Regions from separate parts of the Homo sapiens genome. Here all the other regions are reported to be linked to region 1. Evidence: microRNA targets listed by miRTarBase, many of them from high-throughput screens and not tested one by one. Region 1 holds a microRNA gene; each other region holds the end of a gene's coding sequence. Distances are between the middles of the regions.

Region 1 (4,279 bases):
GCATACTCTGGGGGTGGGGGGGGGGTGGGGGGCGGCGCTAGTCCTTCCTGCCTTCCCCCTCCCTCATACTTTGGGTGGAGGCAGGAACAGTCCTCTGTCCCTATCTTTTGGTGTCCGGACATGGCCTTGGCACTGTAGCATGTGGACAGCCAGTGCCATGGATTTCAGAACCTGCATTGCCAGTTGACTGCCTGCTTTGTGTGAGTACTGGCTCTCTACAAGCCGCAGAGGCGGACGGCTGGGTCAGGGGATGGGCCTCAGACTTCCTGGAGCTCCTTTCTGGAGATCTTCAAGTCAGTAGACACTTGACTGATTATCTTTAATTCTGAAGGAGCTGAGATGGGCAGTGCTGGAAGAGGGCCCTTGTGAAGTCCGAATTCTGGCAAAACGTTCCTTGCTAAGAGACAGCGTTGAAGTTAGGCCTTTTTGCACGTGAGGGTCGTGGTGTGTGAGGCAGATGTCGGCTAGATTCCTGGCTTTGCTATGAACTCTGCCTCACCCAGGCCACTAGTACTAGTTCCTTCTGAGCAAAAAAGGGAGGGTAATAAATGTGACCCCCCCCACCTTTTTTAAGAGGAGGGAGAGTTTTAATGAGAAACATTACATTTGAAAGTGAAACAAATTTGTCTGTGAAATTCTCCCAGTATCTTGTCAGATTTATTCTAAATAAATGTGACACATATTGTAATCTGTTTCTTAATACAGTTTTTACTTGGCATTTTACTTGACAGGATAAAGTTCATGTAGTTTTGCTCTACTCTTCTATTTTTCAGTTCTCTTATTCCTTGATTCGCAATTGTTTCCATGATCTGTTGTGGGCACTGTGTTAACTCCGTGAATACCAAGGCAGGTGTCTGCCCTCCAGGAACCCTGAGGGCTGGAGAGATGCCTTTTAAGCAATGATGGACAGTTGGGGAAGGATGCCCAGGGCACTGTGGGTGAGGCAGGAGATGGGGTCCAACAATTTAGGGGCAGGATCCATGAGGACAGCAGCCTCTGGGGAGACAGCAAAGAGAGGAAGCCTGAGTCTTAGTTTAGTCTGGGTTAGGGCCACAGCCAATGTGAATGAAAGCACATGGTTAGGAGAAAATCACCTAGGACACCTGAAGATGAAAGCGCTGCACTGAGACAGACAAAGAACACCAATGATAACAACTAACCTTTTTTGAGGATTTGGTATAGGCACTGTTTTAAGCACTAAATAAATTAACTAATGTAATCTTCAGTAGAATTCTATTACAGAGATGTAGGTACTATTATATTATTATCAATACTTTGTTTGTTTATTTATTTATTTATTTTGAGAAAGAGTCTCGCTCTGTCACCTGGGCTGGAGTGCAGTGGCTCGATCTCAGCTCACTGCAACCTCCCCCTCTCAGGTTCAAGCGATTCTGCTGCCTCAGCCTCCCCAAGTAGCTGGGACTACAGGCTCACACCACCACACCAGGCTAATTTTTGTATTTTTAGTAGAGATGGGGTTTCGCCCTGTTGGCCAGGCTGATCTTGAACTCCTGACCTCAGAAGATCCACCTGCCTTGGCCTCCCAAAGTGCTGGGATTAGAGGTGTGAGCCACCATGCCTGGCCTGTTGTTACTTTATAGATGTGGAAAATAAGACATCATGGTTAAGTAACTTGCCCAAGGTCACACAGGTAGAGCTATCAATAGCAGACTGGAACCAATAGAGGCCCTCACAGAATGATTCTTGGGAGATTTCAGTTTTCATCTGAACTTTCTCAGGGGGATGTAATAATGTAAATGGACTCTTGGCCCCTCCATCCTGGAAGCTTGGCCAAGTGGCCTAAACCAGGGGTCCCCATTTAGTTTCTCCAGCCCCCTTTTTTCTTGCTGAGTTGTTTTAAAAGTTAAAAAGTGCTTAGTGACCTTGGACAACATTAGCACCTTCTAAGTCCTGGAATCCACCAAGAAGGAGGAAGGGAGATGGTGCTGAATTCCCCTAAGGCAGGGCTCAGGAAGCAAGAGAACCCTGTGGTCTAACCTTTCCCATCTGCTCTCTTGTTCCCAGGCTACGTGCAGGCCTGCCGCGCCCTGATGATTGCTGCCTCGGTCCTGGGTCTGCCGGCCATTTTACTGCTGCTGACTGTTCTTCCCTGCATCCGGATGGGCCAGGAGCCCGGTGTGGCTAAGTACAGGCGGGCCCAGCTGGCTGGTGTTTTGCTCATTCTGCTGGGTAAGACAGCTTTCTCAGTGGTACCCTACCTATGAGGGAGCCTGATGAATCTCAGATCTTGTGGTTGCTGCCTTCTCAAGTTCAAGAGAAATGTGAAAGGAAGCCAAGTGAAGCCAGTGGGGGATGGACTCCCACAATCTGTATCCCTTTGTATTTTATGGGCAGTTTACACAGAGGGCTAAGTAATGTCTCTGGGAGTCACTGACCATGAAGATAAGTTTAAAAAGAGAAAGAGGATTTTGAAGGTAGGAAATACCTAAGGGAAAGACCTGAAAGATGGAAGCCTTCTCAGTCTTCACAGTGGAATCCTTTTTGAACACCTATGCCCAGGTCCCACAGCAGATCAATTGAATCAGAATTTTCTGGGCATCAGGCCAGGCAAAGATATTTTTTGAAAGCTTCCCAGGTGATGCTTATGTGCAGGCAAGACTGAGCAGCTCAGTTAATAAAGAAGGAGGCCGAGGTGGGCGGATCACCTGAGGTTGGAAGTTCAAGACCAGCCTGGCCAACATGGTGAAACCCCATCTCTACTAAAAATACAAAAATTAGCCAGGTATGGTGGTGCATGCCTGTAATCCCAGCTACTCGGGGCGGGGGTTGCTAAGGCAGGAGAATGATTTGAACCCAGGAGGCAGAGGTTGCGGTGAGCTGAGATCACGCTACTGCGTTCCATCCTGGGTGACAGAGTGCAACTCCAAAAAAAAAAAAAAAGAAAAAGAAAAAGAAAAAAGAAAGAAAGAAAAAAGTAAAGAAGAGGGCAAGAGAAAAGTCAGGAGTTGAGGGTGGTTAGACCACCAGGTGATGGCTCCGTCCTTTAACTCAGTAAGCCTTCCTTGAGCATGTGGGCCAGACACCATGGTAGGTACTGGGGACACTGGGGAAAATAGGCCGTCTTTGCTTTGAGTGTACTTGGAAACCTCAATAGAATATGGTATGTGCTCATGTAGAAAAGGTATATAGTCTGTGCATACACATAGGAAGGCACCTAACCCAGACTGGATGAGTTTCCAGAGTGGAAGAACCCAGCAGTAAGCTCTGAGACTTGAAGAGGAGGTGGGCTGGTCATGAATTGAGGGGAGGGACAGTCCAGGGACAGGAAATGGCATGTGCTCATTTGGTTTTGCTGATTATACCTGCACATAAAGGGCTTCATTTAACAACCTATGGAGGGTCCTTCTAGCTCTCTTCTCGTCAGTGATTTAATTTCTCTCCGTTTTTTTCCCTCAGATGCTAGTTTCATTAGCACATTCTAAATCCTAATAGACAATATGAATTTTAAGAACAACTCTTGTTGCAAAGTGCGCATATCAGTGACAACAAATTAGTCTGGTAATGGGTTAGATATAAAATCACCTTCTTCTGAAACAAGGAATTCATACCCCCAGATTGGCATATCAGATGATGAATTTGAGGGGTAAGGATAAGGGGTCAGGGTTCTGTGTGGGTTGATGCCACTTGGTGGGTACCTCCCATCTGGAGGCCTCACACTCATAATGACACCAGTAAGGTGAGGGGACATGAGAGGTGGGGCACCATTTTCCAGGATTGCAAAGGGACGGAGGTTTGCAGGTTCTTGTGAAGCCACAAGGGTGTGTGTGTGTGTGTGTGTGTGTGCGCGCGTGTGTGTGTGTTAACAGGAGTGAAAAGGCCACTAATTTCCAGAGAAAAATCTGAATGTGGAAATTTTGGTTCCAGCCACAAAGAATTTGTGTGCCAGCGTCACACGGAACACATATCAGCATCCGGTGCTTTATCTGACTCACAGGGGCTCCCTCTTGCAGTGCTCTATGGAGGTCAGGTCTATTGTCTGACTCCCTTTCCAACAGGAAAGTGAAAGCTCCACAAGTAAACTTGGTTTGCAGAATCCAGGTGAAACCCTTCTCCTAGACACTTGCTGTTTGTTACTTTCCTCACATTCTCACAGAAGCCCCGGAAGGTTCTCTTGGGCTCTGAGGATGGCAGAGCCAAAAGGTGGGTCTGTTGTGTTGAGTGCTCATGTTTAGAAATTCTGGCCTTCCATATGAATGTCACAGGTATCCACAAGTGAGAGAACACACTAAAACAAACATACAAACCCTGGAAAATAGAG
Region 2 (4,279 bases), not on the chromosome of region 1:
ACCCCCCGGGCCCCGGACAGCCGTCGCCCCCTCCGGAGGCACTGCCCTGCCGGGACGGCACGGACCCCAGTCAGCCCGCCGAGCTCCTCGGGGAGGTGGACCGCACGGAATTTGAACAGTATCTGCACTTCGTGTGCAAGCCTGAGATGGGCCTCCCCTACCAGGGGCATGACTCCGGTGTGAATCTCCCCGACAGCCACGGGGCCATTTCCTCGGTGGTGTCCGACGCCAGCTCCGCGGTATATTACTGCAACTATCCTGACGTGTGACAGGTCCCTGATCCGCCCCAGCCTGCAGGCCAGAAGCAGTGTTACACACTTCCTGGAGGAGCTAAGGAAATCCTCAGACTCCTGGGTTTTTGTTGTTGCTGTTGTTGTTTTTTAAAAGGTGTGTTGGCATATAATTTATGGTAATTTATTTTGTCTGCCACTTGAACAGTTTGGGGGGGTGAGGTTTCATTTAAAATTTGTTCAGAGATTTGTTTCCCATAGTTGGATTGTCAAAACCCTATTTCCAAGTTCAAGTTAACTAGCTTTGAATGTGTCCCAAAACAGCTTCCTCCATTTCCTGAAAGTTTATTGATCAAAGAAATGTTGTCCTGGGTGTGTTTTTTCAATCTTCTAAAAAATAAAATCTGGAATCCTGCTTTTTTGCTCTACTAGTACCTCTGTCACACTAGTCTTATCAAAAACCAGTTCTTAAGATCAATGTTAAGTTTATTAGTTAATGTAAATTTCTCATCCTCGAAAAGGGTGAACATAAATGCCTTTAAGGAGTATATCTAAAAATAAACATTAGGATATCTAAGTTTGATGTAATTGTTTCAGGAAGGAAAAAAGAAAAGCATTCTGGAATGAGCCTACTTCAAGTAATCTTAGTTTCTAAAACTAACAGTTAATATTTTCAATTCCAGTATATCACTTTAAGTAGAAGGGGATGTCCAAGTAATTTTGGTTTTCTAACTGTTGAATCATAAGCTTGACCTGCCCCCAGAGGCTTTTTGGATGTTTTTATCTGTGTTTTGCCATCTCTTTACACTCCTCGACATTCAGTTTACCTTAATCTTCACATTTTTACACCTTGGGAAGTGGCAAGCATCGCTGGGTTTAAGATAAAGGAGTCACAAAAACTAATCAAAATAAAATTTGCATTATGACAACTTTTAATACACTTTAGCATTTTATTTGATTGGTTTTTTTTTTTTTTGCTTTTAGATTTAATACATATACGGACGATTGCACAGACTTAGGGGAGAATCCATGAATGGTTTGTGTGTAGTGTCCCTATCTATCACCATTACTTTATCAAGAAGAAACAGTTACAGGGTTGTGAGTAAAAGATGGGGATCAGCCCCTGTAATCTGCCATACTAATCGCTGTGGCACGTCTCACCACATTTGAGATTGAGACATAAATGGAAACAGGTGACTTATAATGGGCATTTCCTGTGCCAGATGTTTGTTCAATGCCATTCTAAACAGTGTGAGCCTCAACAAACCTGCAGGTTTAGGTGCTATTTTTCCTATTTTGTAAGAAAAGGAGGCACCAGGCCTTCCCCTGCCATGTATATGAAGGCTTGTATTACAAGTTCTTTTGACATATTTCTCACCTGTTTTCCTCTGGGCCAGTATGTATTCATGGGCACTGGGAGAATTTACATTCTGTTGATGAGAAACCATATAATTATCCTTAGCAGCAAGTGCTATAGAAAAAGGAAAGGCTTGGAGGATAGCTTCCAGCATTTACATGGGAGAGATGTCTGAGCTGAAATGATTGGCTGGATTCTCTTGAAAAAGGGCATGGAATATGTTTTTTAGAAGGGATTCCTGGAATGTGAAGGATAGACAGTTTTAGTGAGGAAAGGTAAGTTTATTCTGTCAGGCATAACAGGCTGCCTTTAAAAAGGTTAAATTCTTTCTCTTAGCTCAGATGGGTTGTTTCTGCTTCCAGCCTGAGCTCCTTCTGCAGGGTGTCCCAAGAGTTCCCAGTAGATAAAGTGGACAGAAGGGCTACCAGCCCAAGTTCAGGGCTGTGCTCAGATTACACTTGGCATTTTCATCATAGTCAGCCCAAGAAGACTCAGTTTTACCCTTGGCTGCCATCTCTTAACGATATTAAGATAAGTACAGAAAAGAAAAAGAAAAAGAGTTCTTAGGGGAAAGATCTAAAGTCCTGTAAATTACATCTTTAACTACTCACTAGGCGCAGGTGGAAAAGCAGTAAGAGCTAAAATTGTTAAGTTAATGTTCATGCATTTACATGGATGGAGGGATTGGTGTTCACAAATAATTTTTTTTGGGTAAGAAGCATCAAGCCAATTCCTTCTCTTTCCTCAAGCACACAGATCAAGTGACTGCAGGTAGCAGCTAGTGATTTTTTTTAATTCCTAATTTTAGTTTTTATGGGTACATAGTAGGGGTATATATTTATGGGGTACATGAGATGTTTTGATACAGATATGCAATGTGTAATAATCACATTATGTAAAATGGGGTATTTATTCCCTGCAGCATTTATCCTTTGTGTTACAATCCAATGATACTCTTAGTTATTTTAAAATGTACAATTAAATTAATATTGGCTATAGTCACTCTGTTGTGCTATCAAATACTAGGTCTTATTCCTTCTATGTTTTTTTTTTTTTGGTAGTTTTAAATTACCAAAACATTTGGTATCCTTAAACCCTTTCTCATTTTAAAGTACAGGGATGTGGGCCCTGGTGGCAAAATTAGAAATAGAGCTTTGGGGTCCATTACAGACCATTATAGTTTTAAAGTGAACGACAGAATGTAAAACTTCTGCCTAGGTCGAACGACTCTATGTCATCACCAAGTGAACAGACCTCCCCCCACCACCAGGTATGACATCGCCAAATGCATAAATCCCCTCTGTGACATTACCAAGTGCCTGGATACCCCCATGACATCACCAAATACGCAGACCTCTGTTTCCTCAAGTAGATTCAGATGAAGTGACCACAGGTACCAGCTAGTGAATTTTTGAGACAAAATATTAAATCTGTCTCAAGTTTTTACTGTTTTATTTTGGAGACAAATACACATAAAGGATACATTGCTTTTCTACCCATGTCTAATTTGGTACTTTAGAATTACATTAGGAGGTAAGAATCCAGCTCTTTTATGAGCTAAGATAGCCAGACTTGATGCCAGTACAGAATGTGCATGCCTTTGAGACATCCGGAGCAATAAGGAAGAGGTTATTTTTTCCCCCATGAGAATACTGACTACATCTCTATTAAAGCTACCAGGTGGGTCTGATAAATTACAGATAAACTTGTAAATGACTTACACAAGCAGCTAAGAGATAATATTGCAATGAAACAATTTACTTATTATTCTTATCAGTAGATTATTGCCTCTTTAGTTTGAATCACGCTGCAGAAGATATCAGCTTGAATTTGTACTGATATTAGGAAAAGCACATACAAGCCAAAGGAATTCAGATAAAATGGAAAGGGTGCAATGAACCAAAAGACATCATCTCAGCCTAACATTTTAAAATGTCCCATTTCATTTTGTTTTTAATACTGTGCCTGTCACATAATAAATGTTCAACATTCCCTTCCTCCTCCTGTTCCTCTTTGATTTGTTTTGACAATAGTGGACAGGGAGAAGTATTTTACATCCATTATTTCAGCACAAATTTATTTTTCCTGCTTACAAGGTGCTTCCTTCTGGGTCTACAATATTCATCTGAAGAAAAATGGCACTGATGTTCCTACCCAGTCCCCATCTGGAGTAGGCTCAAGTTCCTCCACAGGGTGGGCTCCTAATGGAGAGAGTATTTCTTTAGGTCCTCTGGCCTGGGATCCAGCAGCATCTCAGTTTTTCACCATAACACCTATCCCTACCCTCCTTCTAATGAGAAGGTGGCTGTGTGCTTTCTCTGGAATTACCAAGCAGCTTTATGGGAATAATTCAGTTTGCACCATCCTCCATATACAAACACTGAACCCTCACCACTGATATTTTTCCCAGGTTGGTTCAAGACACTGGAAACTACAATGTCTTAGTGCAGCACTTAGTACACGCAAGTGCTAAGTAAGTTGTTGTGATAATCATGATGTTCTTTAATGTAAAAATTTCTCTGTAGCTAAGATTCAAGAAACCATTTGGCTAAATATTTTAAAAATCTCTTCTTGCTGAAGAAATTTTAGCTTTGACAATCTTTTTTTCCACTTGAATCGAAGTCTTAAACCTTTTGCCAAAGTTGACTTCCTAACAAGTATTCCCCAAATTGATGTTGCTCCAAAAGATGAT
Region 3 (4,279 bases), not on the chromosome of region 1:
CATCTCAAAAAAAAAAAAAAAAAAAAAAAAAAGAAACAAATTACTCCTCATAGTGATGAATTTCCTATTTAACTTACAGCTTTTATTATACATTTTACTAGCCTCATCCAATTTAAATTTTACTGGGTCTTTTCTTAAATAGCCTTTTAAATATTTTATAGTAAATGTTGATTACTTAATGCATTGTTTCTCAATCACTTTTTCATTATCACTTTCCTAAGGAGCCTTTTTAGACTTTTTTTTCCCTAATCACCCCCACCCTGTGAAATTTTAGTATCTGTTTATGTACTGTATGTATATCCATGCTTTATATATGCAAAGGGTAAGATTTTTTTCACCCTCCCAAGAACACAATTTTCACCCTTTTAGAGGCAAGATTGCTCACTTCAAGAATGTATGACCTACTGGGGCACTATAGGAAAATGTCATTTTAACTTTGACAGTGAATCTCAAGCCCATGTATTTTGTTTTTATAGCTGCCTGCCTCTCAAACATCACATGGTGACCACTCCAACACTACTACTGTGGGGAGAGAATGACGCATTCATGGAGGTTGAGATGGCTGAAGTCACAAAGATTTATGTTAAAAACTATTTCAGGCTAACTATTTTGTCAGAAGCCAGTCATTGGCTTCAGCAAGACCAACCTGACATAGTGAACAAATTGATATGGACATTTCTAAAAGAAGAAACAAGAAAAAAAGATTGACTTTTCTTTATCTTCTATGAAGGGTCTGTAATGAAATCTCTAAATAATTTTTAAAAATTGTTCATCAACTTCTTTATGTTTTATTAGAAAAAAACTGTTTTAATGTGCTTTATCATAAATAAATATCCTGACAAATGGTATTGAAAAAAATCTGAGATCATGTGAACATATAATACAATGTTGATTTTCTTCTGGTGTATTTTGCACAGACAAGCATCTGCCTTAAAATATATACACTTGTACAAAAAGGAAGTTTGGAGTAAGTGCTTCCATTTTGGTTTCTTGCTTTTTTTTACTCTGTTAACATATGGTGCCTTTTACAAATGTATATTAAAGATTAGCTGTGCCATATTATAAGGCAAACCTGAAATAATATAAATTTTCATTCTATTGTTCAAAAATTCTTTTTACTATTTTTAACCATTAAAAAGTTATATTATCGAATCTCTTTGGATTTATAGTATATCTATTAGTTTGAAGGCAAATATAGCTAAATGAATATGCATTTTTAAAATGGGCCATATACTATTTATACTGGGAACATTAAACCATTTTTTAAAGCTGACATCTTGGCTGGGCGTGGTGGCTCATGCCTGTAATCTCAGCACTGTGGGAAGCCAAGGCGGGAGAATCACTTGAGACCAGGAGTTTGAGACCAGCCTGGCCAACATGGTAAAACCTCATCTCTACCAAAAATAAATAAAAAATAAAAGTGGGCAGGCGTAGGCGTGCACACCTGAAGTCCCAGCTACTCATGAGGCTGAGGTGAGAAGATCGCTTGTGTCCAGGAGCTTGAGGTTGCAGTGAGCCATGATTGGGCCATTGCACTCCAGCCTGGGCAATGGAGTGAGACCCTGTTGGAACGGAAAGGGAAAGGGAGAGGGAAAAGGAAGGAAAGGATCCTTTTACCCCATTCAATGCAACGAGAATTGAATATTACACATCTTATATGCACTAGAATCTAAGCTCCACAGGGCAGGGATTTTTTTGTTGTTTTATTAACTGATACATATTCAAGTCTAGACTAAGGGCCTGGCATATTGTAGGCACTCAAACATTTGCTTAATGAATAAATAATATATCTGGCACACTGCTAGGCACTGCGGGGGGGTGGGGAATATAAAAGAAAGATAAGGTGGTAACATAGAACTTTCCCATAAGAAGCCTTAAGGGCTGGGTGTGGTGGCTCATGCTTGTAATTCCAGCACTTTGGGAGGCTGAGATGGGTGGATCACCTGAGGTCAGGAGTTCGAGACCAGCCTGGCCAACATGGTGAAACCTCATCTCTACCAAAAATACAAAAATTAGCCGGGGATGGTGGCAAATGCCTGTAATCCCAGCTACTTGGGAGGCTGAGGCAGGAGAATTGCTTGAACCTGGGAGGCAGAGGTTGCAGTGAGCCAAGATTGCACCACTGCATTCCAGCCTGGGCAACAAGAGCAAAAAAAAAAAAAAAAAAAAAAAAAAAAAAAAAAAAAAAGACGCATACATAGAATGCAGTCAAATTAAATAAAGGTTCAAGAGTAGAAATGAACATTATAAGTAAGAGTTGAAAAGAGTTACAGAATAGAGAACAATACCAACTCAGGGGACTACTACTCATTCTTTTGGGTTGTTCCCCTTTAACATGGGAGGCAACCAGTAACACTGCCAAATCACATCACAGAACAAATAAGCCCTAAATTGGTGAAAGGATTGCTTCCCTCATTAAGCATAGTTCTGATCGTGACAGAACAAAGGAGAATGTCCCTAAGAATTCTCATTACTGTATCACAGCAAGTTGTATTTACAACAAAAATCCAATTCTCTATACAACACATTGCTTCGTAACAACATGCAAGGTAGGTATCACCAATTTATAAATAGTAAAAATGTGATTTAACGTGTAACTTTGCCAATGCCCATAGTGTAAGTTCTGGAGCTAGGATCTGACCTAGAGCCATCTGGTGGTAAAGCCCATGATCCCACTTACACCAGATACCATTTAGCAGACTTGTGGTATCCACGCCACTCTTCCTGTTTCAGCAGTAATCTGGTGTGTTTCAATAGATGGCCATATCTCTCAGGAACCTACAATTTGACTTTTAATTTTGGGAGGGAAAAGGAATTCAAATTAGCCATTAGTAAACATAGGAATATTCTATAGAGCATTGTCAGAGTTGCAAATGCCACAAGGTATAGAAAAATCCTGGTTCATACCAACTTGTTGCTTCCCTCTTGATCCCTCCAGAAGGGCAGCAACAAGGGAAAGAATGGGACGTGTTGACACAGTAAAGTAATCCTGACTTATTTTAATAAAAACCTGTTACTGACAAAGGTGATTTTAAGATTTGTTGTTGTTGCTACTTATGTCAGTTTAGGAAGCTGACAAGTTCATGTGGACTAATTTTAAGAATTTATCAATCAAACATTCCATGGGCAATTCCGGCCTATTACAATGAATGTACTCTAATTTTTAATAGATATGGAAAAGTACTTGTAACAGATATAAAGCCTCAAGGGTGCCATCTTGAGTTAAACCTCTTAGGATAAACAGTTATTACTATCTCTGTAGAAATCTATTGGTAGGGCAAGTAAGTGAATTTGATTTACTAGCTGCCAAAGCAGCTCACAGTAAATAAAAACAGGTAATGGCACCTAAATTAAAAGTTGTAATTATTAATAATATTCATCTATTCAAATTAATATATCCCTAGTAGTATATAATATATGCCTAATTTAACATCAGAAATTGCTATGTGAAAATAATTTATTAGGCATATGTCAAAAGCAAGATGTTTGCAAAAAAAGAAAGAAAGAATGTGCTGTTGATATGATTCAAATTCTCCTGTTACATCATTTACCATCTTTGATTTTTCTGATTTTAAAGGTAATGCAGCATTTTCTATTAACCTACAATTTCCTCTAACAGTTCTAATTATGTGCAAACAGAAAAAGCAGTTGGATGTGGGGAAGGGTGCATGTCAAAGGCTGCCCCCAAATCCAGGCTACACACAGCCTGGGTCTGCTAAGTCGGTTTCACGGCTCTGCATCCACAGACTCTGAGTTGGAGGCGAAGGAGTCTGGGATCACGCAGGAGCTAATCAAGTCCTTGTATCCTCAGCAGACACGCCTCTGTGCATGGTGCTGGACCTGCATCATCCTCGTGGGTACGAATGTCCTGCATCGCCTTCCTCTTCATCTGGCCAGTGGCCATGCTTTCCACCTTTGGCTATCCTGCTCAAATCCTGCAACCCTGCCAAGAGTTGGAGAAAAAAAACTGGTGAAACCAGTACTCAAGCTCATGCTTCAGGTGGCTTTCTTTTTACTTGGGTTCCTGGCTAAAGTGAAAGGGAAAAAGGCAACCCAAGACAAGGCCCCTATCTTCGTTACAGCACCACGGTCCACTTTCTTTGACTCAATCCCCTGTGTGGTGGCAGGGTTACCCTCAGTGGTCTCTGCAAGTCAAAATGTGCAGATCCCATTGGCTGGGAAATTCCTACTGTCAACACAGCTGGTGCTTGTGATTTGAGAAGACTCCCATTCCAGGAAGAATACTAAGGATGAAATCCTGAAGTGAGTGACATTTGGA
Region 4 (4,279 bases), 45 Mb from region 1:
GAATTTTGACCTATTCCTTACCATTCTGCTGTCCTTTCTGAAGCAAAGTCAGGACTCCCCACAAAAGCCTTCCCTTCTCTATTAAACTATCACCAGTAAATGACTGTGACAAAGCACCAACTGAAGCACACGCCTTGGGAGCACAGGTGGCTCCTGCACTTGGTGCTTAAGGCGAGCAGTGCCTGATACTGTTCTCAATCCATCCCATGCAATGAGCAGGAACCCCAGGATTGAAGTGGCTTAAACTCTTTGTCACACAATCCAGGGCAGTGTAAGGCAGGCAACTCCTGGGCTAGAAGAGTTGGAAACTCGATGAGTCTCATACAGGCATCATGTGTGGGGCCAACAATATCCATGAGAAAGGGCAACCATCTCTGGAAGCCCTGAGACCCCATCTCAGGTGCTCTTGGCCAAGGTTAGATCATGTCCTTACCTAATCCATCAATGGGGAGGCAATGAGGGCTCCCAAAGGGCTTAAACAGAGTGGTTACTTTTTTAGCTTGTTATGTAGAATTCAAAAAAGCAGATTCAGTAAAGGTTCTGTGATAGGCTGAAAAAGGGCCCCCCAAAAGACCCACGTCCTATTCCCTGGAACCTGTGAATGTTTCCTCTTTTGGCAAAGCGTTTGCAGATGTGATTAAAGTACAGCTCTTGAGATGTGGAGAGGATCCTGGATTATCTGGGTGGTCCCTGAATGCAATCACATGTATCCTTACAGAAAGGAGACAGAGGTAGACTTCATATACACAGAGGAGAGGGTGATGTAAAGATGGAACAGAGAGATTTGAAAATGTTGGCTTTAAAGATTTGGGTGATGTGATCACAAGCCACCAGAAGCTGGAAGAGGCAGGGAATAAATCCCTCGTGGAGCCTCTGAAGGGAGCTCGGCCCTGCTGACACCTTGAATTAACCTAAGTGTTACTGATTTCAGATGTCTGGCCTCCAGAACTGTGAAAGAATACATTTCTGTTGTTTTTAAGCCATCCGATTTATGTAATTTGGTATAGTAGCCACAGGAAACTAGAACAGCTTCTTCTTAAAAAGCGCCTGGGTAATATACCAAAAAAATTAGCCAGGCGTGGTGGTGTGTACCTGTAGTCTCAGCTACTTAGGAAGCTGAAGTGAGAGGATCACTTGAACCTAGGAGGTGGAGGCTGCAGTGAGCTATGATCATGCCACTGCACTCCGGTTTGGATGACAGAGTGAGACCCTGTCTCAAAAATAAATAAAAAGGTCCTCCAAGGTCACCCAACTTAGCCCTTCATAGCTACAACCTTTTTCAGCATTTCTCCTTCCTACATGCCTACTGCCAACTCAGACTCTGCTTTCTAATGATGCTCAGAAATCTGGTATTTAACTAAAGCCAGATTGTGAGAACAGTAATAATAAATGAAACCTCATCTTCCAGGAGAGAACATTAGGATCTAGCTGACCCTTCATCCTGACCTTCCCAGCCCTCACCCACACTAAGCCCCTTCCATTCAACAGCTCAGCATTTCTCAAAATGCGGTCCAAGGACTGCCTGCATTGAATCACCTGAGGCACTTGTTAAAGATGTAAAGTCTAGGACTCCATCTCAGACTTGCCAAATAAAAAGTTTAGGGGTGAGATGCAGAAATCTGCACTTTTTTTTTTTTGAGACAGAGTTTCACTCTTGTTGCCCAGGCTGGAGTGCAGTGGTGTGACCTCGGCTCACTGCAACCTCTGCCTCCCAGATTCAAGCGATTCTCCTGCCTCAACCTCCCAAGTAGCTGGGATTACAGGTGCCCGCCATCACATCCAGCTAATTTTTTGTATTTTTAGTAGAGACGGGGTTTCATCATGTTGGCCAGGCAGGTCTCGAACTCCTGACCTCAAGTGATCCACCCGTCTCAGCCTCCCAAAGTGCTGGGATTACCGGCGTGAACCACCAAGCCCAGCCTGAAATCTGCACTTTTGACAAGCATCCCAGGTGATTGTTAGCCCACTGATTCATGAGAACCTCCACTATAGAAGAAGGAGCCAGAAGTGATCCAACAGTACTTTCCTCCATGGCTTGATGGCGAAGCCTCTGACCCTGGGCCAAGTGCTAAACTTTTCTGGGGAAAGCTACTGCCACGGCCCCCGGTACTGGGTGCTTGTGATGAATGTCAGGCAGAGCTCATAAGGAAACCAAAAGAGTCCTGTCCCCTCATGCCTTTCATGTTGCAAAACAGCTGCGAAGGCATTCCAGGAGTTGAGGACCACAAATTCTTTTGAGAATATGAGTCACCATTAGGCAATTCATGTTAATTCTTTAATTAAAAAGACCCTCACTAAACAATAATAGTTTACAAATGCATGTACCTTTTGATCCTGCAATTCCACTTTTGGGAATTTATCCTAGAGATACACTTTATGCTTGCACATTTGTACAAGATTATTCACTGCAGAGCTGATTGTCATTGCAAAAGATTGGAAAGAATCCAAATGCTCATCATTGTGGAACTGGCGAAATAAATTATAACACATTTATACAATGAAAAAAATGAACAAATGGCATATGAATTGATATGAAATGTCTCCAAGATAGATTGTTAAGGGAAAAAAGCAAGGTGCAGAACATGTGTATAACGTGCTAACTTTTGTGTATAAAGAGAGAATGTGAGACTCTACATTCCCATTTGCTTGTATATCCATAAAGAAATGCTGGATGTACGGATGAGAATAGTGGTTACCTCTAGGCCAGGGTAGACAGGAACTGAGCAGGTGGAGAATAAGGATTGGAGGGAGACTTTTCACTCTATATATCTTTTGGGTGTGGAAACATGTGAGTGTATTATTTATTTTTGAATAAATAATACAATAAAATATAAAACATACACTTATTGTGGCCCTCTGCACAAGCAATCTGGTTGTGCAGAGTCTTGGTGTCCCCTGCTAGTCTTAGTACCTGTATAGAGCTCTTCAGACTGGGTGTCGTGTTGCAGAGGCTAGCACCATTCCTGATGTCACCCTGGGTGAGACGTGGTCCTCAGAATCCAGATTTCCTTTTTTGTCTTTTTCCTTCTTCCACATGTTCTAAGAAAACATAGATTTCTGGCCAGGCATGGTGGCTCACGCCTGTAATCCCAGTACTTTGGGAGGCTGAGACGGGTGGATCACGAGGTCAGGAGTTCGAGACCAGCCTGGCCAACATGGTGAAACCCTGTCTCCAGTAAAAATACAAAAAATAGCTGGGTGTGGTGGTGCATGCCTATAATCCCAGCTACTCAGGAGGCTGAGGCAGGAGAATTGCTTGAACTCGGGAAGCAGAGGTTGCAGTGAGCCAAGATTGTGCCACTGGACTCCAGCCTGGGTGACAGGGCGAGACTCTGTCTCAAAAAAAAAAAAAAAGGGAAAAGAAAATGTAGATTTCCATTGTCCAAAGTGACAGCGGGAGGATGGGTCTTGAGTTTCTCAGGTTGGAGAAGCAGCTCCACGAAGGTCCTGAGCTTGGGTCCACTGTACATGGGACAGCTCCAAAAGAGGAAGGTCCCAGCACTGCATCTAGTAGTGAGGCATCAGCTGCTCCCGGTTCACGAGGGAGGAGTGGTGGTAGCGATCCCGAGTGGCGAAGTCTGCATTCTCCTGGGTGAGCTGAGTCATCTCCATGTCAACCTTAGCCAGGGACGGCGCCAAGATGATCTGCTCCTGAGGGGACCGCAAGCTCCTGCAGTGAGAGAGACACAGAGGATGGTGAGAAGGACAGAACAGAGACTGAACAGTAGAGGTGAGTCTACTGGGCATAAAGAAATTATCTGTAAACACACATGTATTTAAATGTTTAAAACATAATTCTTGAAAGGTATATGTACAGGTATATATGAACTCAAAGCATGAGAAATACAAAGTATCAAATAAAATAAAAAGAGACAGAGAGAGTGATATTTACCCTCCCTAAGTAGAAAAGTATAAAGCTGTACCTACCTGATAGGAAATAACCAACAAAGAGAGGTTTTGCCCTCCAAATGGTATCATGTTGGGGCTCTGTAGCTTTTCTTTGCCTTTTTTTTTGTCAAAAATAATGGAATGGAGAGGCTGGAAAATTGAGAAGAGCAGAAAGAGAAAATTCTCGTAGGTCTATTGAAAAGAAAGTTGAATAAGGAGTGATTTCAAGAGCTAAGGCTCACACAGCAAGCAGCTAAGAGGGACTGCAAAGGCTTTTGACACCAAGGTGGCCTCAGGTGAAGAGCAAGTCCCATATGGATCCCACTGTCACTGGAGTCTCTGCATACAGTTTCGGTTGGAATAAACTGGGAAAGAAAAATGTTAGGGATGC
Region 5 (4,279 bases), not on the chromosome of region 1:
GCCCCCACTAAATACCAGGTGAGGACCCTACCATCATGCAGTCATCCAGCAATTGTTCTATGCCTGACAACATACAGTATCATAACCACAGTGGCAGGACAGGTGGCTTTCAGCTTCCCATGCCTTCTCTCTCCTACTGGACTAGAACATCCCTGTGGGCAGGGACTGACCCTGTTGACGACTCAGGACCAAAATACGGCTTCCAGATAAAATCCAGGATGGCCAACTAGAGTCTGAATTTTACATAAACAACACATCCTTTTTTTAAAAAAGTAGAAATATGTCTCCAGCATTTCATGGGACAACTTCCACTAAAAGATTATGCATTGTGCATCTGAAATTCAAATTTCACTGGGCGCCCTAGATTTTTATTTGCTCAGTCTGCCAACACTGGACCCAAAGCACCCTGGATCTGTGGATCTCCTCTCCGCTGGACCCAGTGGGATCCAGGGATGGAGCAAACGCTAAAGGGCCGAACTTGGCTCTTCTGCAAATGAGCTGGGGGAGGGGCAGGCTGCACGGAGACCAGAGACTGGGGCGGGGCTGGGGTAGGCAGGGCTCGCTTTTCAGGGGTGGATACACAAGTGCTCCTCTCTCTGCCTGGGTGAGCTCCAGCCTGAATGCTGGAGGTTCAGCCCCATTAGAAAGATTCATTTTGAGGAAAAATAAAGACCGTGGGCTTGCTAGTGTGCAGGGTTAAGACCTAGCACCCTGCTTTCCTTCTCTTCCCTGAGCTTGGGCTCAAAGAGAGGTTTTACTACCCTTTGCTTGTGGGCACTGAGGGACATCCAGGGTTAGGAAGAGGCCGTCTACACCCAGAAGAACTGGGGCACCTGGACTCTCCCCACCCCAAAGACCCTTTGAGGAGAAACCCTCCTGTCCCTGGCCCCCTTGGAGCATTTCCAAACCCTTAACACCTTCGAAAGCCTGTGTCCAAGAGGCCCTGGGGCAGGTGGCCATGGCGTGTCTCCCTGCAGGTGGTGGAGCAGCCAGCTGGGCTCTAGAATGAGCATGGAACCTGGGCAGGCTGTCTGCCTATCAGGACCTCAGACTCTCCTCCCACAGGGAAGCCCAACCCCTGTGGGGACTGAATTGAACAAGAGTCACAAGCCCAGTGGCACCTGACATGTCTCAGAAGGGTCAGCAAATGTCCCTTTCGTCTAGGGACAGAGGGGGTCTCGGACCCTCTAGGGACAGAGGGGGTCTCGGACACTCTAGGGACAGAGGGGGTCTCGGACACTCTAGGGGCAGAGGGGGTCTCGGACACTAGGGGCAGAGGGGGTCTTGGGCACTCTGTTGGGTCTGGCACCAGGCTGATATCCCAGCAGCTCTTCCTGACCCACCCGTGGCCTCTGCCCGTTGTCTGCCTTCTGACCTCAGGCTTCAGGCTCTGCCCAGGACCACCCTTCTCCACTCGAGGGCTCTGCTAGCAGGCCTGGTTTTGAAGGCCTCAGGCCACCTGCAGGCCACACCTTTCCAGGAATGGTAGTGGAACGGTTTCCTTCCCTGTTCTGCGGGAGTGCCACCCTCTACCTCCCCTCTCCCACCCCCAGACCCAGCCAGGCAGAAGCCACCCACAGGGTGGGGGACACCACCAAGGGCTAAGGGTCACTCTGGTCACCAACTGTGGGCCTGAACAAGAGGCTTCCCTTCCCCTCCCGAGTCTTCAGTTCTCCTCAGCTAGAAAAACAGGGAGACGACGTCCACGCCTGGCATGGGCCTTTGTGTACCAGCCGGTGAAGGACAGGCCCAATTCTCGTGCCCAGCAGGCAGTTTGCCAGAAGCAAGATCACCCTCCTTCCACCCCCGGGGTGGCAAAGGACATTCATTCCGTGGAGGGGGAGGGGACTGTGTAACTCACTCTAAATGGGGCTGGGGTGACCGGGGAGTGGGAGGGACCACTCACAAAAGCCAGGGCTAGAAACTCCCAACGGCTTTTTTTTAAAGAACTTCCCTTCCCCCTCCCCTCCCCATGCTGGGCTCCCCTCCCCCACGTCCAGCCGCTGGTGGCCTGCAGCCAACACTGGCCACACTGTCCGCATTCAGGCCTCCCCGCCCTCCTGGCCCTCATCTCTCCCCAGCCTTCCCCACACTGGCTCTCTCGCCACCTCGCCACCCCCCACCACTCTGAACCACGTTGACCTCTTCCGCCCTGGCGCCCCGCACAGACCCGGGCCCCTTGGTCCCAGGCGGGCAGGGGAAGGGCTTCGGAGGCCGGGAGCAGCCCCGCGCCCGCCAGGCCCCCAGCCCCGCGGTCCCTGGCCCTGTGCGGCCACCTCAACCAGGAGGAAGATCGCTGCGTCTGCAGAAAGCTGGCCACCGCCGCCGCGTTCCCGGGTCGCGGCTTCCTGGCCCGCTGAGCCGCACCCCGGAGTTCGGCCCAGTCCCGTCGCCCCCTCTGGGACCTTAACCCCTTCCTCCCCCGCGACACCAAGGGCCTTGGCCTTGCCACCCTAAGGGAGAAGGGTGAGGAGTCCCAGCTCTCCTCGCTAAGGAAGTGGGGGTGGCAGGCCTCGCTCCCCCGCCCTCCTCCCCGTCCCCATCCATCTCGCAGGAAGCCCCCCGCCCCCCACCCCGGCAGCGCTCGCCGCGCCTCTAGTGGGAGCCTCTGGCCTGGTGGTTTCCGGGGAGAGAGCCCGAAGAGCAAGGGCCTCGGCAGCTTCCTCAGTGGGGCAGGGCCGGCGATGCCAGCCAGGGACGCCGGAGAGGCTGGGGGTCCCCGCCCCGCGGAACCTGCCCTACCGGGCGCGATTATTAAGAAGGAACCTCCCTGCCCCGCCAGGGCTTGCGCCTGGGTGTGTTGAGCCCCAGGGGTGGAGGCTACGGGGGAGGAGAGCCAAAGGTCAGCCGCTGCCCAGTGGGTGCCGCGAGGGAGACTAGCCCCACCCGCGTGTCCGCGCCGCCCACCCCTGCACCCCCTCCTCCCCTACCCAGAACCCAGGGTTTGCCAGTGCCTTGGGCACCGCCGGCCGGAAAGCCCTGGGGGCGGGGACGGCTCCCACACCCACCCCCCCGCAGGAATTCCCCTTCCCAGCCGGGCGCCTCTCGACTTCCCAGGGAGCGGGGTCACCCTCCTGCGCCGGCGCCGCGGCCCGCAAAACCAGCCCACTTCGCTGGTGCAAAGGTTCAGCACAGGGCTCGAAGGCGGAGTTGGTGGCGAGAGGGGTCCGCTCATCTCAAACAGCGAAAATGCACCTTCAACATCTCCATTTAATATTTACATTCAAGCAGGTAATAGTTGGAAGCTTATAGTTTAGACATTTCTAGTAGCAGCAGTTTCTAGAGAGCTCGTGTAGCCTTTTAACAAACTTTTTTTTTTTTTTTTTTTTGCACATAGAAACAAGACATCCATGTGTACAGTATCAAAAAATATATACCAAGGTTACTGGTATTGCAGTTCGTGGAAGGGGAAGAGAGGGGAGAAAATGAAATCAACCGAAATACTGGATGGAGGGGAAGAAAGGTCAAAAGAAAATAGTTTGTCTGATATAGAATATAACATGATCTAGAGGAAACTCCATAAATCTAGGTTTTTATATTTCAATATATAAATACCTACAAATAAATATATATATAGCAGCCCGAAGGGGGGTGGTCGGGCCTTTTGAGCTCAAACAATACATTTCAATAATAACACCACGTACAAACGGGAGTAGAGTCAGCACTTGACAAGTTAGCACGGTTAAAATATAATACTAGAACTCTGAGGCCGGGCGCAGAGCTGCCCTGTCCGTTCCGGGGGTCCATCTCCAGCGGGGAAGGGCAGGAGAGGGCGAGCCCCGCCGGCACCGCGTGGAAGGGGCCTCCGCCCAGGTCTGACAGCCGCCGCAGGGGGAACATGGTTACCTCCGCTCCGGGCGTCCTCACCCTGGGGGCCAGCCTGGGTCTCTCGCGGTTGGCGGGTTGGCGAGAGGGGAGCCCGCCCCGAGGCCCCAGGTGCTCAGCTCCCCGCCCCCCCGCGGGAATGGCGCTTCCCCTTCCGACGCCCTCCGGCTACACCGTCACGTACTCCTTGAAAGTAACGGTGAGGCAGTTCGCGGTGACGTCGGTGATAATTATATTCCCAAAGAAGGGCTTGAACTCGCTCAGCGACTCTGCAGGTTCGTCCTGGGCCTCGGCTGGAGGCTTCTCCGCCGTCGTGGTGGGTGCCGCTGCCGCCGCCACCGCCACCGCCGCCGACGCCGGTGTCTCGGGCTTCACCTGGAGGGAGCTGGGCGGCTCCCCGGCCTCGCTGCGCGTCTTGACGCAGCGCAAGTCTATGGGTTCATCCAGGTCTGAG
Region 6 (4,279 bases), not on the chromosome of region 1:
GCACTATATCCCAACAATCTGAGCACTCTGTCAAAGATGCTCACAGAGACAACAGGAGCAGACAGAGCCTTGTTTCTCTCTTAATCTTCAGAGCCTAGAACTGAGCTTGGCCCTCACCAGGCACTTAGAAATTGCATAATGAAAGAATTTCAGATTTTTATTAGTGGCAGTGAGCACTGAAAACCCAGTATTTGGCCAGGTCCAGTGGCTCACACCTGTAATCCCAACATGTTTGGGAGGCCAAGGCGGGAGGATGGCTTGAGGTAAGGAGTTAGAGACCAGCCTGTGCAACATAGTGAGACCTTATTCTACTAAAAAAATAAAACTAGCCAGGAGTGGTGGTTGCGTGCCTGTGGTTCCAGCTACCTAGGAGGCTGAGGTGAGAGGATCACTTGACCCCGGGGCTTCGAGGCTGCAGTGAGCCATGATCACACCACTGCACTCCAGCCTGAGCCACAGTGTGAGACCCCCATCTCACAAAAAAAGGAAAGCCTAGTATTCTATACAACCTTAACCTATTTTTTTTTTTTTTTTTTTTGAGACGGAGTCTTGCTGTGTTGCCCAGGCTGGAGTGTAGTGGTGCGATCTTGGCTCACTGCAAGCTCTGCCTCCCGGGTTCATGCCATTCTCCTGCCGCAGCCTCCTGAGTAGCTGGGACTACAGGTGTCCACTACCACGGCTGGCCAATTTTTTGTATTTTTAGTAGAGATGGGTTTTCACTGTGTTAGCTAGGATGGTCTCGATCTCCTGACCTCGTGATCTGCCCGCCTCGGCCTCCCAAAGTGCTGGGATTACAGGCGTGAGCCACCGCACCTGGCCAACCTTAACCTATTTTTAAAAAAGATGTTTATGGCTTTGCTGATAGCAGGCTGGAAAGCTAGCTGAATTTGCAGGCAACCTCAAGTAGTTAATGAAAAATTATTGTGGCTTGTCCAAAGGGATTGAGTTTTCCAAATAAAAAAGTGGGCTTCAGTTTTATGTCATTGTAAGAGGCCATGTGAGGGATGTTTGGATGCTCGCTTTGAATCTGTAGGACCACTCAATGATTTTTTAAAACCATTGGTTTCTGGCAGGCAAAACATTCAAAATCTAGGCTATCCCAGGAAATCTAGCATAAGGGCTGTCCTGCAGTAATGCATTAAACCACGTAACAAACGAACTCAAGAAGAGGGATGTGGCTCTGGATTTGTGACCCTCAACATAACATTTACCACCTTGGGCTTCGGCTTCAACATCAGTTAAATGGAGGGACACAGACGACTCTTTGGCTCTTATACTCTATGACATGATCACTGGCCACCTTAGAAAATCAAGCCTATTTAGACCACGGTTTGTGAGAAGTCAGACTCTCTGAGGCTCAGTTTCCTTATCTATAAAAAAGAAGATGATAACATTGGGAGAAGCCATCTTAAGCAGCGAGGAAAGAAAAGGACAGTGGAGTCAAGTGAACAGTCTCAGATCTCAGCCCCGTGTAATCTAAGGGAAGGTTACTGGAGCTGGGTCTACTTTCGTCATCTGCAAAATGGGGATAAGAATGCCTGTTGTAAGGACAGTTGAATGATCTTGCTCATGCCAACTTACAGAAGGTACGAAATAAACGCCGATCTCCTTTATTCTGATCTCACATTCAGCAAATGTGAGAGAAATGTGAATGTACTGAAATGTCTGCCAGAAAAAAGAAAATCCAACCCCTCAAAAGAATGACATCAGGGGTTTTGATATCTATTCACCTACACTTCCCTCTTCCACAGGAAGCGGCCCACCTTCTGACCCACACTGCCCATCTCTGTGCTTATCATGGAGCTTTCAAGAGTGAGGATCGGAGGCTGTATTGAGCAGTGGGCACAAACCACAGGGAGCGCTGTTCAAAAATGGAAAACAAGGTGGCCCTGACACCGGGTGCTGCTGGGCACCCTCTCAGACCTGCCCTGCAACAGCATCAGGAGGCTGAGGGTCCCCAGCCAGAAGGCCCAAGAGGGGCCCAGGCTGGAAACTTTACTGCGAAGCAGCCCTCATCTTAAGGTGGCTCAACACCACACCTGAGATCTAGCCCATGCGACAGTATGGAAGCAGGAGGCCCTACTCCACCACAGAAAGAACATTTATGGGCGCCTAAGCCCTGGGAGAATGGCACCTGAGGGAACAGAGCGTGCCCACAAGCAGACCTTGGGGAGGGAGAAGAGGCAGCCCTGCTCCTAGTCGCAGCCAGCGTGCGTCATGTCCAGGCCCCACAAGGGTGACCCTGGCTCAGGTTCTCATGCTCCAGAAGCTGGCCCAGGTGGCAGTGGGTTCCCTATGGAGGCAGCTCATCATTCACAACACAGCAACAAACCTTCTGCTCTCATGAGGAGAATGTATTTTAAACTTGGGAAGAGTCATAATTCTGGGATGTTTCACATGTTGTCAGCTTTAACCTTCTACAGACACAGGCCCTCTCCTCTGTGAGGAGGGACCTCTGGCATGTGTGGGTGTGTGGTGGGTCCCTCTCCCTATTAGCAGAAATGTGTTGGGCATGAGCCAGGTTTATGATTTGGATTGTGTCCTGCACATAACACCTGTGAGAATACAACTGGGACTAGGACAATGCGGGAAGCATATTCTTCATGAGGCGGTAACCAAAAGGCTTGGCTATACCAAAGGATTCTGGTGGCCGGGCACGGTGGCTCACACCTGTAATGCCAGCACTTTGGGAGGCCAAGGCGGGTAGATCACTTGAGGTCCAGGAGTTCGAGCCCAGCCTGGCCAACATGGTGAAACCCTGTCTCTACTAAACATACAACAATTAGCTGGGCATGGTGGTGGGTGCCTGTAATCCCAGCTACTGGGGAGGCTGAGACAGGAGAAATGCTTGAACCCGGGAAGCAGAGGTTGCAGTGAGCCGAGATTGCACCACAGCACTCCAGCCTGGGTGACAGAGCAAGACTCCACCTCAAAAAAAAAAAACCACAAAAAAACACAAAAGGATTCTGGGTGTAACAATCTCAGTAGAGCCAGCGGGTGACTCTGGTTCTCCTAAAATTCTGCCCTTACTTGCCACTCACCACACCCCCAGATCTGAAGGGCCAGCCCTTTTCTACCTATGACACCTCACCAGCAAGTAAAGGGCACAGGACCTCAGAAGTCTGTGGTGCTAAGGATGAAGACTCTACTCAGAGAAGGTGCTCAGCCCTAGTGAGGAGGTTCTGGGAAGCAGGTGGGCCTGCTCAATGCAGTCCCTAACCCTTGGGAGCATCCATGTGAGAGGTAAAGGTGCAAATGACTTGGGCATGTTGACTCCCTACTGAGGAAGGCAGGGCCCCTCACATCTGCAGTGGCCGTATGCATCAGAGAACGGCATGACTGCACATGTGAGAACTGGGTGCACCCGAGCAGTGTCAATAGGAATCCCTTCCCTATTCCATGCCAAACAGTCTTCCCCAGACACAAAGTTTCCAGGTCCTGAGGCTTGACTCTTCTAAGGCTCAAAATGGGTTCTGTTTCCAGACGTGCTTGCCTTGCTTGTCTTTGCTTGTCTTAAGGACTCTATTTCAGGCCAATACTTGATCCTCAGACAAACTGGGACAGGTTGGGAACTTTGATGTTGAGATCGCCAATGTTGATGTTCCGAGGAATCTCTGGCAGGTTGATGTTTTTCACAGCAGACACAGCCCGCGCAGGGGCTGCTGAAAGGCCACCCTAAGAAGAAATGAGAGGCGAGTATGAGACAAATTCTCACTGTTATCTGCTTAATGCTAAAAAAAAAAAAAAAAAAAAAGCAAAAACAAAAACAAACAAGCAGGATGGGTGTGGTGGCTCACGCCTGTAATCCCAGCACTTTGGGAGGCCGAGGTGGGTGGATCACCTGAGGTCAGGAGTTCGAGATAGGCCTGGCCAACATGGTGAAACCCCATCTCTACCAAAAATACAAAAATTGGCCAGGAGTGGTGGCGGGCCCCTGTAGTCCCAGCTACTAGGGAGGCTGAGGCAGGAAAATCGCTTGAACTCAGAAGGCGGAGGTTGCGGTGAGCTGAGATCACGCCACTGCACTCCAACCTGGGCAACAGAGTGAGACTCTGTCTCAAACAAACAAACAAACAAAATAACAGGTGAAGGATGCCTAGAAAAATTCCAAACTGAGCACACACAACTGAAGTTTTAACTTTCCCCCCTTATTCCTCAAAAGTAGCCAACAAAACAATCTTGAGGTTAGATGGGGTTTGGCACAGGGATCCAAAGCCTGCAGTCCTACTAGACTACCAGCTCCTCAGAGGCGGAGTGTGGCCTATACAGTTTCACAGCC
Region 7 (4,279 bases), not on the chromosome of region 1:
GTTGGAGTAAGTTCCATATATAAAAGCTCATCCAAAACTTTGTTTCTTGGCAGAAAGAAAGAATTGTTCACTTACATCTTAAACCTAAATGATTCAGAGAAAGTGTAGAAGACCAGTTCTTATGTTTGTGTTCATGCCCTCCCTAGCCTTGCTAGGGTAACAACTGGGAAAGGAATTCTGTCCTTTGTGTCATTCTGGCACCTTCGAGTAGCAATTCTTAATTTACCGATTATTCCTTCTGAGGCGCACAGTCTGTGGATCCAGGTTTTAATCTTGTTTCTGTCCTGAACCATGTGATTTTGAGGAAGTCACTTCATCTTTGTGAGCTTCAGATTATCTTTTTCTCTAGAAAAAGATTGGACTAGATCTTGAAATACCTTTCTCCATGACTACAGGGTTGCCTGCCAACCAGAGCATATTGACTCCAACCTTTACTGAAATGGAGCTGTGACTTTGCTGGGGAGGGGGCAGGGTTGCATTTTAAAATTAAAAAAACAAAACAAAACACCTGATCTACAAGACAAATACTTTATCATAAGTTTGTCTTGTTATATTTCATTTTTTGTTTAAAAAAAAAAATCAAGCAAAAACTTGTCATTTCCAGTAAGACATTTACATTCCTGTCCAGAGAAAAAACTTGGCCATCACTCAGCTAACATAATGCTTTTTCAAAGTATGTTCACTTAAAGCAGTGCAGGGTAGGTTAACATGGTCACTGTATTTACATTATCAAAAAAATATGTGTATATGTATCAGTTTGAACTTGTTCTTCAAAGTTTCTCCAGTATATTGTCAAAAAAGATAAAGCTCAAGAAGTGGTTTAAATAAACTTTCTGCTAGCTTTCCTTATCAAGCGGGAAAAAAATCTGGTGCCTAGACTAGATTAAACCCGTATTCTGTCTTACAACGCAAAGAATATTCTGTACCTCCTTCATAAGCTTTGCTGCCTGTCTCCCCACTCTCATGACAGTAGGCTTCCTAGTCATCATACTTGTGGTTTCTGGCCTCCTGTGCAGCTTGGGGAAACCACAGTTTACCACTGAAAGAGCTGATGATAAACTGTCTTTGCTACAACCTGTTTAAGTCATGCTGAGCTTCTAGTGTTCCTCTTACCTCTTCCCAGACCCAATGCTCTCTGAATTATCAGAGAGCATTTAGAACCCAGTAAAGGTGGCAGAAGATGATGACCTTTATAGATGCATGGCTGTTTGGCCTGTTGACATAGGTGTCCTGGTGGCAAGAGCAAGGCAAGGTGTCAGATTCTGAAGCTGTCCTAAGCCTAGACTAACACAGTTTGGACGAATATAAAGCAGTAACCTCTGAATCAGCCCAGAGCCTCTCCGGGTTCTCCTTGGACAGAGCGATGGAGAGTCAGGAGAGTCAGGACCGACCTGGCCAGGCACTCCTGCTCTCTAGTCCTTGCCAGTCATCATCTGTCTCCAAGAGGCCATAGGGTTGCAGCCTTTGATTGATTTGCAGAGGCCTATTTGCTGTCTCCGTCAAAAGCCCTGGCTGGTGAAGTGTGACCCAGGATCAGCAAAGGAGGAATAATCCAGTCTGGCCTCTCCCACGGGACCACAACAGAAAACCTACTGGGTGGAGAGAACCCAGCGCTGGGCAAGAAGGAAGCAAACACCTCACTCAAGCCTAACAAGATTTCCTGTTTTCCCCCAAACAGGCACTGTTCTCCATCCTGCCCACCTCCAAACACTAGAGCATCGGGGCAGATGTTTTTGGAACTTGTTAGCCTCGCATCCCTCTAACTCCTGGGAAACTCGCTGGGGCCCTATGTGAACCCCTGGCCTTCCTTTTCCCCTAGGATATCAGATGGCTACAGACTGTGAGGAAGGAATTAGGCAGATGGTGCAGGACAGATCTTCCCCAGCCCCTCCCCCTACCCTTTTAAAAAGTAAGCCATCCCGAGTGGATAGCCTATTTCATCAGAGCTACTACAGCCGGAGCCTGACTCTTAAGACCCTGGAGGTGTGGCGTTTCACCCGAAAAATGGCAATTTCATTCCCCTAAGCAGTTCTGCCCATTTTCCTACTTGATCCCAGGGAATTTACGCCCAGAACGATGGAGACCATGGCGAAAGTTCAACATTCCACACAGGATTCCCCCTTCTCAATCAGATGAAACCTCACCATGCCCACTGCTTAGGAGCCTTCTACATGGCAGCTAACTGCCGAGCCCATAAAAGTCCTATATTGGGGAATAGACATAGCTTTGTGTTCCCCTGAGATGCCACCAGAAACTGCAAGAGAACCGCAGCAGCCCCACTAGGCTCACAGAGAAGAGGAACAGCAAGGCCTAGCTCCAGGCCAGGACAGTGGGACGTTCCCACAACAGTCTGTCCCCCAGGCTGCCCTTCATGCACCCAGCATGCACTGCGCTTTCCAGGCCCTCTTTTCCTGTGGCACAGGAGAATCAGAGTGAGTGAGATGAGCTAACTGGACGTCTGCCAACTGTCTGAGCTTTTGGCCTTTGGCAGTGGAGGGCTGGGTTAGAAAACAACTATAACAAAACTCTCAGCAACTTGAAATGTCCCTGAGTTTCCTATGATATACAGGGGAAAGCCTGTCCTTCCTGGCTGCTTTAATGGATTGTCTCTGAAGACACATCGCTGATGGGGGGCCCCGGGAAGGCCTCTCCTGCAGCCACTGCTCTTTCATACTGGGTCTCAGGGAATCACTCCCATCAGCTGAGCAGTGAACAACAAAAGGAACACGCTGCTCTCACTAGCTACAGCAGATTTTAGTCCCTGGTGGAAATGGAAGCCCAAAGAAGATCGTGGGTGGCCTCTGCAAGGAGTGCCAGGGGCAATGGGCCAGTGTTCCTGCTGACCCCTCATCAGCTGCCCTGAGATACCAGCCTGGACTCGAGTGTCCCCTTCTCTCCTCACCTGCACGCAGGTCCCCTAAGCAGACCTGGTTCACGCACGGAGACCTGTGTGGGTTAAGCCCCCATCTCACGAAGCAAATGTGAGAAAATCCGAATCCAGAACAAGGGGTTCAAGGTTATGAATAACCTGTGCTAATCCCAGAGGCCCCAGGACAGAGTAAGTGGGAACAAACACTGAGTGTAGGGAGGGGTAAGAACATAGAGGGTGGGAAGATGGGTACACGAGGCTGGGGTAGGAGAAGGAAAACTTGGGAGCTGGACTTTCAGGTCGTCAGATCCCACCGAGCCAGGATGTAGCCCTGCCCTCCTTTCCAGCCCAGCCACCTGCTGGAGTTTCACCCCTGCCCGGGACTGCTCTGGACGGAAGGCACATGTGAACACAGCAGTGTGGCATGGTGCAAATGGAATCTTTGTTCTCATCCTGGCTCTGTCACCAAGTGGCTCTGACCTTGGGCAAGTCACTTACCCTCTTCAGGTCTCGGCAATCTCACTGCAGAATGAAGGGATTCCACTAGTTCATCTATAAAGTCCCTTACGTGGCTTTTTCTTGATCTCCCTCATCATCCAGCAGCACTGAGCTCAGGCACTAGTGGGTTATTTTACAAGAGGAATCTGGACAGAATGTGATTTGTTCAGGTTGAAAAGGGAAAAATTAAGGCCCTGGGGGGATTGGGAGGGGACACCCCTCGGAGTTCACTCTCCCTCCCCAGTCTTTCCCTTCCCCATCCAAACGGCACTTGGGGTGGTTGGTCTGGAGCTCTGTGGTGCTGCTGGAGGCCACCGGCAGACCGGACTAGAGGTGTGTGTCTTCCTCCTCATCCAGGTCGTCCTTGGTCAGGTTGTCCAGAGGGACGATCCAGCTGTCCCCCAGCTCCCCGTTGAGGCTGACCACCTTCTTCTCCTGCATCTCAGAAGAGGTCTCCATCACTTCCAGTGTTGGGTTGTCATGGTAACCATTCTCCACTGTCTGCAGCTCCTCTGTTAGCCGCTGCTAGAGTGGGGAAGGTGACCGGTGAGAAGGGGGTTTCAGAGGGCTCTGAGCTTAATACAGCGCATGTACGTACCCCTCCCACTCAGGAGCCCCACTGTAGCTAAAGCAGGCCCTCATTGCTCGCCTGTGGGGCTGGCTGCTCCTGGTGGTCATTCTGGCTCTCAGCCTGCCCGGAACTAGTTGGGAACAAAGACTTGCCCCTCACCCTCACCCTGGTGGCAGAACCTGTGAAGTTAGTGGAGATGGACTTTGTTCTCCAGAGTCCTCTAAGCTCTCTCCTCCCCTTCATCCCTTCCCCCAAAACCTCCTCTCCAGGCACCTACCTCACCTATCATAATGAATGGGAAAAACACTATTAAAAAATGACCTCTCTCGGGCTGGGTGACT

The links. The annotated mature microRNA hsa-miR-6828-5p reads AGGAAGCAAGAGAACCCUGUGG and lies in region 1 at 1,971-1,992, shown strand. An mRNA with a match to its seed (bases 2 to 7 or 8) in the 3' UTR can be bound and repressed. Matches are read on the target gene's strand: a 7mer-m8 pairs with bases 2 to 8, a 7mer-A1 pairs with bases 2 to 7 and ends in A, and an 8mer does both.
Region 2: miRTarBase lists SOX17 as a target of hsa-miR-6828-5p. The part of its 3' UTR that is shown has no 7-base or 8-base seed match.
Region 3: the mRNA of EPHX4 is a reported target of hsa-miR-6828-5p. The part of its 3' UTR that is shown has no 7-base or 8-base seed match.
Region 4: miRTarBase lists SLC12A8 as a target of hsa-miR-6828-5p. Seed matches in the 3' UTR shown: 7mer-m8 at 3,266-3,272.
Region 5: miRTarBase lists CBX4 as a target of hsa-miR-6828-5p. Seed matches in the 3' UTR shown: 7mer-A1 at 3,240-3,246.
Region 6: miRTarBase lists AP3S2 as a target of hsa-miR-6828-5p. Seed matches in the 3' UTR shown: 7mer-m8 at 3,186-3,192, 7mer-m8 at 2,858-2,864, 7mer-m8 at 2,589-2,595 and 8mer at 2,065-2,072.
Region 7: miRTarBase lists PODXL as a target of hsa-miR-6828-5p. Seed matches in the 3' UTR shown: 7mer-A1 at 2,772-2,778 and 7mer-m8 at 1,625-1,631.

Annotation. Positions count from the first base shown.
Region 1 is chr3:170,421,138-170,425,416 of GRCh38, forward strand. It overlaps MIR6828 (microRNA 6828), which reads left to right and starts at 1,966; the gene lies at 1,966-2,025. CLDN11 (claudin 11) reads left to right here. Exons shown (of 3, transcript NM_005602.6): 2 at 2,026-2,190. RefSeq lists an enhancer at 4,218-4,279.
Region 2 is chr8:54,459,727-54,464,005 of GRCh38, forward strand. SOX17 (SRY-box transcription factor 17) reads left to right here. Exons shown (of 2, transcript NM_022454.4): 2 at 1-1,166. The coding sequence ends at 269. Among named protein-coding and RNA genes, the nearest start is that of SOX17, 3.9 kb to the left of the region's middle.
Region 3 is chr1:92,062,579-92,066,857 of GRCh38, forward strand. It overlaps EPHX4 (epoxide hydrolase 4), which reads left to right. Exons shown (of 7, transcript NM_173567.5): 7 at 477-960. The coding sequence ends at 708. It also overlaps the pseudogene LPCAT2BP. Among named protein-coding and RNA genes, the nearest start is that of SETSIP, 11 kb to the right of the region's middle.
Region 4 is chr3:125,080,383-125,084,661 of GRCh38, forward strand. It overlaps SLC12A8 (solute carrier family 12 member 8), which reads right to left. Exons shown (of 14, transcript NM_024628.6): 14 at 2,262-3,670. The coding sequence ends at 3,508. It overlaps LOC124906278 (a long non-coding RNA gene), which reads right to left and starts at 1,684. Exons shown (of 3, transcript XR_007096045.1): 1 at 1-1,684.
Region 5 is chr17:79,829,966-79,834,244 of GRCh38, forward strand. It overlaps CBX4 (chromobox 4), which reads right to left. Exons shown (of 5, transcript NM_003655.3): 5 at 3,191-4,279. The coding sequence ends at 3,994. Among named protein-coding and RNA genes, the nearest start is that of CBX4, 7.3 kb to the right of the region's middle. RefSeq lists an enhancer at 1,909-2,730.
Region 6 is chr15:89,831,969-89,836,247 of GRCh38, forward strand. It overlaps AP3S2 (adaptor related protein complex 3 subunit sigma 2), which reads right to left. Exons shown (of 6, transcript NM_005829.5): 6 at 1-3,675. The coding sequence ends at 3,547. It overlaps ARPIN-AP3S2 (ARPIN-AP3S2 readthrough), which reads right to left. Exons shown (of 10, transcript NM_001199058.2): 10 at 1-3,675. The coding sequence ends at 3,547. LOC124903552 (a long non-coding RNA gene) reads left to right here and starts at 3,941. Exons shown (of 2, transcript XR_007064754.1): 1 at 3,941-4,279.
Region 7 is chr7:131,500,617-131,504,895 of GRCh38, forward strand. It overlaps PODXL (podocalyxin like), which reads right to left. Exons shown (of 9, transcript NM_001018111.3): 9 at 1-3,892. The coding sequence ends at 3,695. Among named protein-coding and RNA genes, the nearest start is that of PODXL, 54 kb to the right of the region's middle.